2 separate regions of the Homo sapiens genome follow, and region 2 is linked to region 1. Evidence: fine-mapped expression QTL. Tissue or cell type: prefrontal cortex. Region 1 holds a variant in brackets; the other region holds the start of a gene. All regions are shown on one strand. Distances are from middle to middle.

Region 1 (7,244 bases):
TGAAGTATTTTACTGGCAAAATGATATGTTACCTGGGATTTGCTTCAAAATACTCCAAAAAGGGGGGGTATGTTGATGAAATAAGAGTGGTATAATATTCATAATTGATCATCTGGATGATTGGTACATGTGGATTTATTATATCGCCATTTCTACTTTGTGTATGTTTTAAATTTCCATAAAATTTTAAATTCAAATTTTCCCTTACAAAAAGAATATAAACCTTAAAATTGGATGGATCAAATAGCCATGAAGAAATAGAGGATTCTAATAGCATAATGAATAATCTTGATTTAATGAATATATCTAAAATCCTATATGCCCCCAAAACAGAATATTACGTTTTTATAAATGTCCATGGAATCATTTCAAGAAACTGACTATGTATACACACATATAATGCAAAAAGCAACACCTATACAAGCTATATTCTCTGACCACGGTGCAATGAAACTAGAAATTAACAATTAAGAGAAACCCCAAATAAAATTTTCTAGCTATTTAATAATTTTTGAGAAACATATTTCCAAACAACATTTAAATCAAAATATAAACTTGAGACTACATAGAAATGAATAGCAGTTAGAGCAATGGTTTCCAAAATCTATGGCATGCAGCCAAAGTTATACTCAAAGAAATATATAAAGCCCTAAAAAATATTTATTTTTCTATTAAGCAAAAAAGATTTAAAATAAATTTACTAAACTGTCACCTTTAGAAGCTAGAAAAAGAACAAAAAAGTTACTAAAAGTAGGACAAAGGGATTAATATAGGTTAAATCAGACTTACCAAAAAAAATCATTTTTATTTTTAGAGCCAGGGTCTCTCTCTGTCGCCCAGGCTGGAGTGCAGGGGCGCTATCATACCTCACTGCAGCCTGGAACACCTCGGCTCTAGTGATCCTCCCATCTCAGCCTCCAAAAGCACTGAGATTTAAGGCACGTGCCACCATGTCGAGTCCAAACAAATCATTTTTATAATGAAAGATTAGTAATATTTCTTTACAATAAAGAACAAGACAAGGATGCCCTTTATCATCCCTACTATTCACTATTTCACTTGTGGTCTGAGCCAATTCAACAGGAAATGAAAAAAGTGGCAATGTGCAAAGAAAGGGACAAAACTGTTCTTGGCGGGCATTATGATTTTCTAAATCTAAATCTTCTAACAAATAAATTAATAATAGAGGCTGGGCGTGGTGGCTCACGCCTGTAATCCCAGCACTTTGGGAGGCCGAGGCGGGCGGATCACGAGGTCAGCAAATCGAAACCATCCTGGCTAACATGGTGAAACCCCGTCTCTACTAAAAATACAAAAAAATTAGTCGAGCGTGGTGGCGGGTGCCTGTAGTCCCAGCTACTCGGGAGGCTGAGGCAGGAGAATGGCGTGAACCCGGGAGGCGGAGCTTGCAGTGAGCAGAGATCGCGCCACTGCACTCCAGCCTGGGCGACAGAGCGAGACTCTGTCTCAAAAAAAAAAAAAATAATAATAATAATAATAAATTAATTAATAATAGAGCTCAGTAAATTTTCTGGATTTAAAATTCATACATAAAAACTTATATTGTTCTTCCATACCAACAATAACTAATTATAAGGTGTAAAAAAAAATCAATACTATAAACCACAAAATACCTAGAAATAAACAAACAGAAAATGTGTTTTCCCATGGGGAAAATTATAACACATGATTAACGGACATGAATGAAAGTCTGAATACCTTTATCACAAATGGGAAGACTCAATATCATAAAGATGATAATTCATTATTAATTAAATCATAAATGCAATGTAATCGCAATCAACACCCTAACAGAGTTTTTCATGAACTCAACAAGGTGATCCTAATATATAAAAGTGTAAGGAGTCAAGGCACTCTGGAATAAAAACTACAAGGTGGAGAAGTTGGAGTAGCATATAACAAGATGTATTATAAAGCCACTTAATGCAATTTAACACAGTATGGTATTGGCAGAGATAGACAATAAACAAATTCAAAAGGATAGAGAGCCCAGAAATGAACTCATGTAGATGGAAACTAGAAGTGGCATTACAAATCCCTGGGAGAAGACAGATTCGTCAATAAATAGGGATGAGACAATTGTTTATCCCTATAGGGAGACATAAATATAAACCCCCCACATGAAAAAAACTATCTCAGATGGATTATAAACCTAAATGTGAAAAACAAAGTTGTAGAATTCTAATATAGATAGATAGATAAATAGATAGATAGATAGATAGATAGATGATAGATAGATAGATAGATAGATAGATAGATAGATAGATAGATAGATGAGAGTATATTTGACATCAGGACAGGAAAGGATTTAAGAAGTCACAAAAAGCAAAAATTATAAAAGAAAAGATTAATGTGGCTTACTACATTAAAATTCGAAACATCTGAACAAATAGGATTCTAAGAACAAATTTGAAAAACAAGCCACAGATTGCGGGGCGGGAGGGATTGCAGAATGGCAAAGCACAAGACCAGCGAAGAAATGATATTTAGAATAAAGATAAAGCCTAAAAGACAAACGAGAAAGAGAAAATTAACATAGTAATTTATAAAGAGGAAAACTAAATGCCCAATAAAATTATAAAAAGATGCACCACATCATTAGAAAGCAGAGGAATGCAAATTAAATCCATAATGACATACCATTCACACACCCCATGATGGCAGAAATTCACATCTGATAATACCAGCTCATGCCAAGGGTATGAAGTGGCAGGAGCTCCCAGGTACTGCTGGTGACTGTGAGATTAGGAATAACCACTTGGGAGGAAAAATTGGCAATGTCTAATAAAGTTAGAGATATGCCTATTCTACAACTCAGGAATCATACCAATTAACATAGCCTAGAAAAATCTTCACCTAAGTGTACCTGTATAGGAATGTTCACTGAAGAATTGTTTTTATAATTTAAAATTTTGAAATAACATAAAAGCCCATTAGTTGGAGAAGAAATGAGCAGTGAACAAACCTTGTTCCAACCACAGAATACTATGCAGTAGTGGAAAAGAAAGAAACAAAGTTACATGTATTGGCATGAGGAAAAGTCTCAAAGTCATCGAGTTGAATGAAAAAGCAAGTAGCAAGATGATACATACTCAATAATATTTAAAGTTTTAAAAACCACAGAAAATAGGCTGGGCACAGTGGCTTATGCCTGTAATCCCAAGTACTTTGGGAGGCCGAGGTAGGAGGATTGCTTGAGCCCAGGAGTTTGAGACCAGCCTGGGCAACGTAGTGAGACCCTCACTCTACCAAAAAAAATACAAAAAAAAAAAAAAATTAGCTGGGAGTGGTAGTGCGCACCTGTAGTCCCAGCTACTACGGACACTGAGTGGGGTGGGTCCCTTGAGCCTGGGAGGCAGAGGCTGAAGTGAGCTATGATGACACCACTGCACCCCAGCCTGGGCGACAGCACAAGACCCTGTCTCAAAAAAAAAAAAAA[T/AT]CACAGAAAATAACACTCAGTATGGTGTATGAATATATTCTTCTTATATAATAAAAATATAAAAATATGCATAGGAATGATCCACAACTTCAGGAGGGTACTCACCTCTGGTGAAGGAAAGTGGAGAGTGGGATCTAGTTCAAATACATACTGGGCTTCGCTTACATCTGTAATATCTTTCCTTTTTAAAAAGGAAACAAGCAGGGTGAAATACTAATATTGGTTAAAGTTGGATAGTAGATATACAGACACTCTCTCAGATTTTGTACATGTTTAACTATTTCAAATAAAATATCAACGGAAAATATATATATATAATATTGAGAAGAAAGGTAAAATAAATAATAAGAAAACAATTCATTGGAAAGCAAGGAAAGCATACAATTGATCTGTAATATCAATACTTTTAAAACATCAACAAAATGCAGAAAGTTCTGGAAAGCCTAACCAAGAGAAAACACAAATAAATAATATATGCAATAAGAAATAAGCAAATAGGCCAGGAGCGGTGGCTCACACCTGTAATCCCAGCACTTTAGGAGGCCAGGTGGGAAGACTGCTTGAGGTCAGAAGTTTGAGACCAGCCTAGGCAACATAGCGAGACTCCACTTCTACAAAACACTGTTTAAAAACATTGCCAGGTGTGGTGATACACACCTGTAGTCCTAGCTACTTGGGAGGCTGAAGTGATAGGGTCACTTGAGCCCAGGAGTTCCAGGCTGCAGTGAGCTATGATTGTGCCACTGCACTCCAGCCTGGAGGACAGAACAAGACCCTATCTCTAAAAATACATATACTAATAAGCAGATAATTACAGCCAAGAAGGATACCAAACAGTAATGAGAATACTACATACAATTTTCTATCACTGAAGTTGAATACATAATATGGACAATTTCCCAAGAAGTTATACATTTCCCAGATTCCTATAAGAAAAGGTAGAAAATCTAAATACATCGGCATCCATAGAAGAAATTGAAAAATATTTACCATCATTTATTTCCAGAAAAGATCCAAGTCACACAGGGTGTTTTACAATTCAAAAAACTTCTAAGGAACAGATAATTCCCCTTACTTAAACTATTAGTGGGCTGGCCATGGTGGCCTACACCTGTAATCCCAACACTTTGGGAGGCTGAGGTAGGCAGATTGCTCGAGCTCAGGAGTTCGAGACCAGCCTGGGCAACATGGTGAAACCTTGACTCTATAAAAAATACAAGAATTAGCCCGGTATGGTGGTGTGCGCCTGTAGTCCCAGCTACTTGGGAGGCTGAGGTGGGAGGATGGCTTGAACACATTAGGTGGAACTTGCAGTGAGCTGAGATTTTGCCACTGCACTCCAGTCCAGGTGACAAAGCCAGACACTGTCTCTAAATAAATAAATAAATAAATAAATAAATAAATAAATAAATAAGCAAGCTATTGGAGAGCACAGACACATATATAAATCTTCCCAATTTGTGCTAAGAAATTAGCACAACCTTGACACAAAATTAACAAAATAGTACAAAAAAATAGATTCCATTTTACTTAGTAATTGTTGTAAGAATCCTAAATAAAATATTAACATTTGAATCTGACAGTGTATTAGAAAATAGTATACAAAGTAGGATCTATTTCAGGATGTAAAATTGGTTCTATATTAAGATATCTATTTGTAGACAAAGAAGCAAACTCATGTGGGAGTTTTGTCAGTTTCCTAGACATTTTTTTTAACTCCCCAAGGCTTGATATGTTGCTATTCAACCCACAGCAGAAGTGAGGTTCAGCTTGCAATTGGCATAGAAAAACCCCAAGATGAATGTTTTTTCCCTTGTGTCCTGGCACTAGAGCCTACCTTCTGCTGTTGGAACCAATTCAAGGAAAGCAGAGATTTAGTTGCCACTATCATGGATAGTGTCAAGTCGCTGCACACACCAGTGACTAGAACTCAAGAGTTCTGGTCCATATAAGAAGAATCTTTGATCAAATCATTTGCCCTATCTGAGCCTTAGTCCATCAAACTCTAAAATAATGGAAGGGGCCAGGCACGGTGGCTCACACCCGTAATTCTAGAAATTTCAGAGGCCAAGGCAGGTGGATCATTTGAGGTCAGGAGTTCGAGACCAGCCTGACCAATATGATGAAACCCCATCTCTACTAAAAATACAAAAATTAGCTGGGCATGGTGGCGTGCCCCTGTAGTCCCAGCTACTCAGGAGGCTGAGGCAGGAGAATCCCTTGAACCCAGGAGGCAGAGTTTGCCATGAGCCAAGATCGCACCACTGCACTCCAGCCTGGGAGAGCAACAGAGCAAGACTTCGTCTCAAAAATAAATAAATAAATAAATAAAATAATGGAAGGGACTGGATGATCTCCAGCGTCATCACTTCTGTTTCTATATTAAATGATGATCCATAAACAAGGCTCAAATTACTTTTGCTATTGCAGCAAAGTAAATGACAGTTTGTTGGTCCCCCTGCTGCTATGTAACAGTTGTCAAATTTGTAGGAAGGAAATGCGAACATCTCAATTCATGGCTGTAAACAAATGAAATGTGTTCTTTGGAAAAGAAACCTCTCTTCCCTAGTTTGCAAAACTTTGAGCGTATGTCAGTTTACCCTTCAAACACAGAAAATCAATTTATGTAGCTGCGCAGAGGGGATTTGCATTAATTTAGGGGAAATACTATCAATAGGAAGTGTTCCCTTTTGCCATATGTCCAGCAGGAGTAGAGCCAGAAAACATATGGTTGATGCAGCTTGGTGCCGCCCCAGCCCTGGAGAACGGGGACATGATCTTCAGAGTTTTCCAATTGAAAGATGAGATAAAGACAAACATCTTTAAATGCCATTTTGTGAATTGTTGAATATTCCGTGTCAACACAGTTAACATAGAATGTTCAACAAGGTGGAAATCTAACATAGCTAACATATCTTTCTGGGAGAAAAACTACTAATGAGCAGACCTTGGAAGATGCTGGGGAGAGGCCGCACATTTGTATGAGGCCCCCAGGACCCTTGAAAGTGGGAAGTGATTGAGACTCCACCCACTTCTTCCCAAGATTGAAGTTGCAGAAATCGGCTTCAGTAGCCCAGTCTCCCCTAAGCAACGTCCAGAGGGAGGAAAGAGCAACGAAGCCCCTGGAATGAAATCATCTTGGAGATAAAAAGCATTAGGCTTGGGGCGGGCCACTGCTGAGTTGGGCTCTTAAGAGAGGAATGGTTCTGAATCCCTAATGCTGTGGATCCTAGGACAGTTTCCAATCCAGCCATCCTGGAGGCCAGATAATGCCCCAGGAATGTGCCCTATATGAGACAACAAATCTAAAAAGCTGTGACATTGGAACTCTTGACAAAGAGCTGAGGAAGACCAGGAAGCCCCCTTCCCACACCTTGAAGGACCACCCATGCAGAGCCACTGTGGCAGGGACTGGAATAGACTTCCTAATCACCTTCTCTTGGTGATGTGACATCCTTTGTCCTCAAGGAGAGGAGACATACCCTCTGGAAGGCATGAATAAACCGGCTCTTTGGTCATAAATAAGCACCTTGGGGACTTCTTTCATCATAAACACATTCAAAATAGTCAATATTGGAGTTTGAGCTGTTCAATGGAAGTACTAACAGGAAATGTGTTTGTACCCCAAAGGGGCAAGGAGGAACTCCAATGGTGGCCAACACGATTCCCCCAGCTCTCAGAAGAAGAAATGGTACCCCCAATATGGAGGAGTTTCAAGCGTAGGTCATTATGTGCTGGACAACATTGGGTGGCTTCATGGACTTGGCCTTGGTCTGGCTGCTGG
Region 2 (7,244 bases), 33 kb before region 1:
CCAGATATTTCTCTCTGTCTATATGTATAACCACATATAAATAGATTCAACATTATGCAAATGGAATCATATAAGTATGTGGTTTTGAAATTTTCTTTTTTCACTTAACAATATGTTATAAATATCTTCTATGTCAGTAAGTACAGAATCATATTGTCATTTTTAACACCTATTTGGTATTCTACCCTATGGATGCATTTATTCTGGCATGCTATCATGGGATTCCATTCAGTACACAACATTGCATAACAGCTGAGAGTGTGGTCTCTGGAGCGACAACACCTTGCTTTAAATCCTAGTCCTCAATTTTCCAGCTATAAGACCTTGAGAAAGTTGCTTGCCTCTCTGTGTGTTTTGTCTTCTGCAGAATGGAGATGCTAATAGTACTTTCTTACAGTGTTTCTGTTTTGTTTTGTTCTGATGATTAAACAAGTTATTACACAGGCAGTGTTTAGAATAATGCCTGCATCGGCCCAGCACTGTGGCTCATGCCAGTAATCCCAGCCCTTTGGGAGGCCAAGCCAGGAGGATCACTTGAGCTTAAGAGTTTGAGACCAGCCCAGGCAACATGGCAAACCATGTCTCTACCAAAAACAAACAAACAAAACAAAACAAAACAAAAATTAGCCAGATGTGCTGGCATGCACCTGTAGTCCCAGCTACTTGGGAAGTTGAGGTGGAAGGATCGCTTGAGTCCAAGAGATCCAAGCCGCAGTAAACTGAGATCACACCACTGTACTCCAGCCTGGATGACAGAGAGAGACCCTGTCTCAAAAACAAAGAATAAAAAAGAATAATGCCTGCATCACACATCACAGTAAGTCTCATTGCATAGTATTATGATTTAATTATATTTCAATAACTAATCCCCTATTGACAGATATTTGGGTTGTTTCCAATATTCTACTATTATAAATTATTTCTGCAAAGCAACAAACATCTGCTATATATATTTTGTCCACTTGTCAGATGATGTCTTTAGATAAGTTCTTGAAAATGAATTTGCTTGTACATAAAGTATTCAATTTGATATTTGTCCTCAAACTGCTTTCTAGAAATATTGTACCAAATTACATTCTCATAAACAGTGAGAGAGAATGCCCATTTTTCCAGACCCTTCAGCAGCACTGAATTTGTTCAATATTTTAAAATTTGCCAGCTAGTAGGTAAAAAGTACAACTTCCTAAATTTTTTATTTGCATTTATTTCACTGCTAGAGAGGACAGTTATTTTCTCTTGTTTGGGACATTTATATTTCTTTTTTTGTGAACTGGCCGCTCATCTCTTTTATTCTTTGTTCTATTGTGGTGATCATCTTTTTAAAAAAAATGATTATAAGCGTTCTTTGTAAGATATCTACATTAAAATGTTGCTGTTATGTTAGGGCTTTCAGATTAAAATGCAGGACATCAAGTTAAATTTGACTTTCAGACAAATGATGAATGGGACATAATCATACTAAAAAATTATTCATAGCCTATCTGAAATTCCAATTCAACCAGGTTTATATCTCTGTTAAACTTAGTAACCCCATCTCATATGGATAGCAAATATTTTTCCAGTTTGTTGTTTATTTTTGAATTCCGTTTACGGTGTCTTTTTCCATGAAGACATTTATTTGCATATTTTATAATCATATATATCAGTCTTTTCCTTTATGCTTTTATGATATATTTAGAAAGGCTTTCAGAATTCTAGGTTTATGATGACTTTTATGTATATATTCATCTAATTATTTTTTGACTTCAGTTTTTTATGTTCAATTTATGACGGATCTGGAATTTGTTTTGGTCTGGGGAACTAGGTAGAAAATGAGATCCCCACACTTTCACTATCTAGTTATTCCAATATCATTTATTTAAACATCTATTTATCTGGGCCAGGCGTGGTGACTCACGCCTGTAATCCCAGCACTTTGGGAGGCAGAGGTGGGTAGATCACCTGAAGTCAGGAGTTCGAGACCAGCCTGGCCAACATGGTGAAACCCTGTACCTAACAAAAATTTCCCAGGTGTGGTGGCGCATGCCTGTAATCCCAACTACTTGGGAGGCTGAGGAAGGAGAATTGCTTGAACACAGGAGGCAGAGGGTTGCAGAGAGCCGAGATCGTGCCATTGCACTCCAGCCTGGGCAACAAGAGCAAAACTCCGTCTCAAACATAAAATAAAATAAAATAAAAACTATCTATCTGATTAACATGAAGTACCACCTTAAACACCACAGTTTCTCATGTACTTCTAATTCTGGGCTCTTCATCCCATTCCATTGAACAGTCATGTCCGGACCAGTAATGTGCTGGTTTTTGCCTTGTGACAGAGGCGGTGTCGTGTGATGGGGTTGAAGCACATAGATGCATAGTTTTTGCAGGCAGAACGCCTGCATCAAACCCCTGATCCCCTACTCCTACTTGTGTGACCTTACACAAAAGTGTAAGTGTGATACTTACACTTTTGGGCTTCCATTTCCTATCTGAAAATGGCAGCAGTATCAGTACCTGCATCATAGCTTGTTGTGATGAATAAAATGCATTAATCCACGTAGAGCACTTCCTTAAATAGTAAGCACTCAAACAATGTATTTTATTTATTCATTTATTCATTTATGCATGCAAGCATTTCTTCATTTTAATATCCAGCAGGGCTAGCTTCCCTTATGCTCTTCCTTATCAACATTTTGTTGCCTGGTCTCTTTATTCTTCCACATGACACTGAGAATCATGTCAAGTTAAAAAGAAAATTCTACTTGGAATTTGATAGAGATGGCATTGAATTGACAGATAAAGAGGACATGATGGGATTACAGTGTTTACTTCTTCTTGCCCAAGAATAAGGCGTGCGTCATAATAGATTCAAGTCTTCTCTAGTCCCCTAGTAGAGAAGGTTGTTTTTTTTTTTTTTTCTTTCACATTTCATGATAAGTTTATTTTTCCTAGCTACTGTGGCTTGGCTATTAGTGAGAATGGGATTTTTTATTTGCCTTTCAAAATGGTTAGTAAGTGCACAAGAACACCGTTAATTTGGTATGTTTATTTTGTAGCCTGCCAATTCCTTGGAAAGGCTATTATTTCAACAATCTTCAGTTTGCACTTTCCAACTACACAATCACATCCGCTGCAAACAGTAATCATTTTTCTCCCGCTTCACATATATATAATATATATACATATATACACACATATAGAATATATATTTTTTTAACAAAGGCACAACTTCAGTATTTTTACACCTTATTTCCTTCTCTTGTCTGATTGCATTGACCAGACGTCCCAAACCGGCCCCCTGCTCTTGCCCCTAACTTTAATGGAAATGTTTGGCTTGCTATGAAGCATACTGCAGGAGAAGGCTTTGAGAGGGTTTTGCTGTCGTTGTTGTTTGGGGGGATTTTTTTTTTTAACTGTAAAGAGAATATCTGAAGAAAATGCATTTGAAGAGCATATTGGAATAGCCCAGATTGGTTTGTGCGCCTGCAAGGAGCTCTTGGGCCCCCTCCCCTCGCTGCCAACGCTCTGCCCCGGGGGCTGAAGTTTCTCTCTGCGTTTCCGCTTGAACAGCGTCCAGCTGCCTCGCCTTTAAAATGCCAGGACGGCCGCGGCTCCGCTCAGAGCCCCCTCTCGGCTGCTGGCCCGGGCTCGCCCGCGCCGCTGGGGGCTCTGACTCCTGCCGAGCCGGGCCTGGGCAGCGCCCCCCGCGCCCCGCGAGCCCGCGCCCCCGTCACCGGGAAACGCCGTAGCCGGCGATCCGCGGTCGCCCTGGGCTCGGCGCCGGCCCAGCCAGGACCCCGGGAGCGCACGGGACGGGCCTCGCCAGGTAAGGACCGCGGGAGCATCCCGGGACCCGCTGCCGCGGCGCCTGCGGGGCTGGAGCACAGCATTGTCGGTGCCGCCGGGGCGTCGCGCGGGTCACCGGCCGCAGGCGGAGGATCTGCTCGCTGAAGTCGGGCCGAGCCCTGCCGCGGCGGCGAGGAGACCCGCGTGGACACTGGGACCGATCCCCTCCTCGGCGGCACTGCGCCCGGGGCGCGCCTCGGTCGGCGGGGAGGGCCGGACCCGCGCGGCAGGGGACAGCAGCCTCGGTGGGAGCCGCACGGGAGCCGCGTCGCAGCGGCCCGAGTTCCACTGCGGGGCTCGGGGCTCAGAAACCGGGAGAGTGTGGTGCTGTGCTCAGGCACCCTCGCTGTTCTGAGCCTCACCTCCCCATTCGGGGATCCTCGGCCTCTCTGCCATTGAGGGGTTTGGGGAGTGTGAGTTGAAACTGAATCAAAGTTAGAAAGTCCTTCTCGTCACGTTCAGTGCCTAAAATTCCCTCTCCTGTGGCTGACAGTCACATAGAACAGATTTTTTCTCAATGTAACTGATGAAGGTCAGCACGGATGTAACTTCTGGGGAAAGTTCTGCTGGTGGCAGCCTTTCTAAAGAAATGTCAAGTCTCCGTTGGATTTTGTTCTCATCTGTGGCAAAAACCCTAATCCACGCTTTCATATATTTTTCCGTATCAGTGGAGGCGTAGACCTATCCTGGGTTCTAATGTTTTGGGGAATGTATTATGGAGCCGAATTTGGTAAGAGTCTCCGTGCCCGCAGCAAAAGTTCTGGAAAAGAACCTGTTAGAAAATCCAAGCTGATGCACCGCCTCACCAGGCGTGCAATAGGGCCACAGTGGCCTGTCAGGATGTGGCTCGGGACCCAGGAAAAAAGCTCCATCGAAGCCTGTGCTGCCTTCGTGGGGAGAAGTTCCATTCTAACCCACTCGTGCATCCGCCGGCAGGTTCTTCTCAGTTCTCCTCTGATTCTAATCAGAGGATTCGAGTTTCTGGATTAACACTGTGATACAATCTTACCCTTTTCCATAAAATATGTATCCAGTGAACTAGGGGATCTAGTTCCGAGGGTCTGGAGTTGAAGTCTTCTATACTTCCCTCACCCTCATTAAGCCACATCTTGAGAGGAATTGTAATAATCTGATCTGTGGTCTTTGCGAACCTGCAAAGTGTGTGTAAGACCTCATAAAGCCAAACATTCAAGGCTTTAAAGGTGATTTATAGATTAGATTTTGATTAAGGCTACCTTTTCAGGGATGGCTCAGCATAAGATATGTACCAGCTTTGAGGAGGCATTACGGAGGAAAAGCAAAACCTTACGTCCTTGGGAAAACTGTTCTGAAACTAATGACTTTACATTTATCCAAAAGAGAAATTGTGGGGAAGCTGTTTATTTATTCTGTGTAATCATTGCATTCATATGTTGTTGTTTCAAAGGATTAATTTCCCAATCAGTTTTCCCAGTAACACTGTTTATGATTTTTGAACGGCATGCAAGTAATGAATGCATAGAGCATAATGTATCTCTAACCCAAATACATGTGGAAAATTATAGCAAATTTCTCGCCATTACATGTTTAAGATGCAGATTTAAAATAAAGTTATGGCAGAATAGGAGTTGTTTAAAAAATAATATGAACTTTAATTGGCCTGAAAAAAAAAAACTAGCTCAACTAGAAGTTCAATTGCTGCTTGCTTATAAATTGTGATTTACAGAATTGCGTGTGTCTTTCCAGTTCCTTTCCTTACAGGGTTAATGAAAGAGGCAGCCATTCTGAATATACTGCCTTGCTAGTTAATCTTTCTCCAACAAATATTTACACTACCTGGCCACACTATTACAGCACAGACTCAAAATCTGCAACCCTAAAATAGTTTGTGTGTAGTATTGCCCAAATTCAATACTATTTTCATGACGTAAATAGAAAATGAAATGGTATCAAGGAAAATGTCCTTTAAGTATCCTGTCTTGCCATAATAGAAAGAACAGTGTTTATAAAACTGACATGGTTCCTAGACTGAGGTTAATGCTCCTAATAAGTTCTGATGTAGAAGAAGACCATAATGACTGTGAATTTTGACATTGAAGGCTCTGGAACCGGTCCGTGTCTGCAAATTTTTTAGATAGCTTAAGTTTGCTATTAAAAGTGACAACATTTAGAACTGTTTGGGATGGAAATATTTCTAAAGCACATTACATGCTTTCTACAATCAGAGAGTCAGCGAATGGGAATTTGTGTGTTTCCTGACAACTCAAGATCAGCACTGTGAATATCAGTTGCCTTGTGGACACCGGGGAGAAGAACACTGGCATTTGTGGGGGACAAATCAGTGTTTAGTCCTGGCTCTGCCACTAAGTCAGATGACCTTAAGCAAGCCACCTTTTTTATCTTCAGTTCTTATTTGTAAAACCCCAGAATCATCAATTACTAAAAGTCAGTTCCATTTATTAAGCCCTTAGTATATACTAAGCATTTTATATATTCCATCATTTAATTATCAGGTTTATTATCCCCATTTTCCTGACAAGGAAATTAATGATCAGAGAAGCAACTTGAATTACTCAAGGTTAAATGAGGTAGGAAAACTGGGATTCTGAGTAGGGTTCTTCCTCTAAAAGATCTGACTCCTAGTGCCCTTGTCCCGTTAGAATCCCACAGACCCCAAAATGGCATTCTATCCCTGTCCTTAGGATGGCGTGATGGAAAAGAGCTGAGTTCCCCTGAGACTGGAGCAGGGTCAGAAAGACAGGGAATTGAGGCTGGGCACAGTGGCTCAGCACTTTCAGAGGCCAAAGCAAGAGAATCGCTTGAAGCCAGGAGTTTGAGACCAGCCTAGGCAACAGAGTGAGAACTTATCTCCACAAAAAAATTTTAAAAATTAGCCAGGCATGGTGGTATGCCTATAGTCCCAGCTACTTGGGAAGCTGAGGCAGGAGGATGACTTGAGCCCAGGAGTTCAAGGCTGCAGTGAACTGTGATTGCACCACTATACTCCAGCCTGGGCAACATAGTGAGACCCTGTCTCTACCAAATTAAAAAAAAAAAATCAAAAAAAGAAAGAAAGAGAACTGTGCTGCCACTCCTGCAACCCAGCCTGGTGGCAGACATGGGTAATTAAAATACAATGTTCTTTCCATAGACATGAATCTCTATGCCCAGGTGGTTACCACGAGTTGACCAGAGGCAGCAGGCATACTGACACCTGTCTGTTATTTAGAGGCTGATATTATTAATAGCTGACAAGTGGCCTGACACTGCATGGCCTTTATGATCACATCCAGTTCCCTCCGGCTACCCTGGCTTCTTGACTCAGACGGAGCTCCCTGTGTTCTAGAAAACTGCAAATTAATGGCATACATTTGTCGCACCTCCCTCTCTTGCCTAGAGCAGACATTGCTAATCAATTATGATATTCTTTCCCATGGAGC

Which allele goes with the higher level. Alleles are on the strand shown, and positions count from the first base shown. SD is a standard deviation of normalised expression in the study named.
For the expression in prefrontal cortex of the gene that starts at base 3,599 in region 2, allele AT in region 1 goes with a higher level than allele T (small effect, 0.27 SD a copy in BrainSeq).

What was found. PIP is the estimated chance that this variant, and not a neighbour inherited with it, causes the effect.
Region 2: CTXND1 starts here. The variant in region 1 is fine-mapped to the expression of CTXND1 in prefrontal cortex (BrainSeq, PIP 0.95).

The regions. Positions count from the first base shown.
Region 1 is chr15:80,215,152-80,222,395 of GRCh38, reverse strand. The region is part of intron 1 of CTXND1 (cortexin domain containing 1); the gene reads left to right. Among named protein-coding and RNA genes, the nearest start is that of CTXND1, 33 kb to the left of the region's middle. The variant T/AT (reference allele first, on the strand shown) is at 3,461.
Region 2 is chr15:80,248,568-80,255,811 of GRCh38, reverse strand. It overlaps CTXND1 (cortexin domain containing 1), which reads left to right and starts at 3,599. Exons shown (of 3, transcript NM_001352888.2): 1 at 3,599-3,805.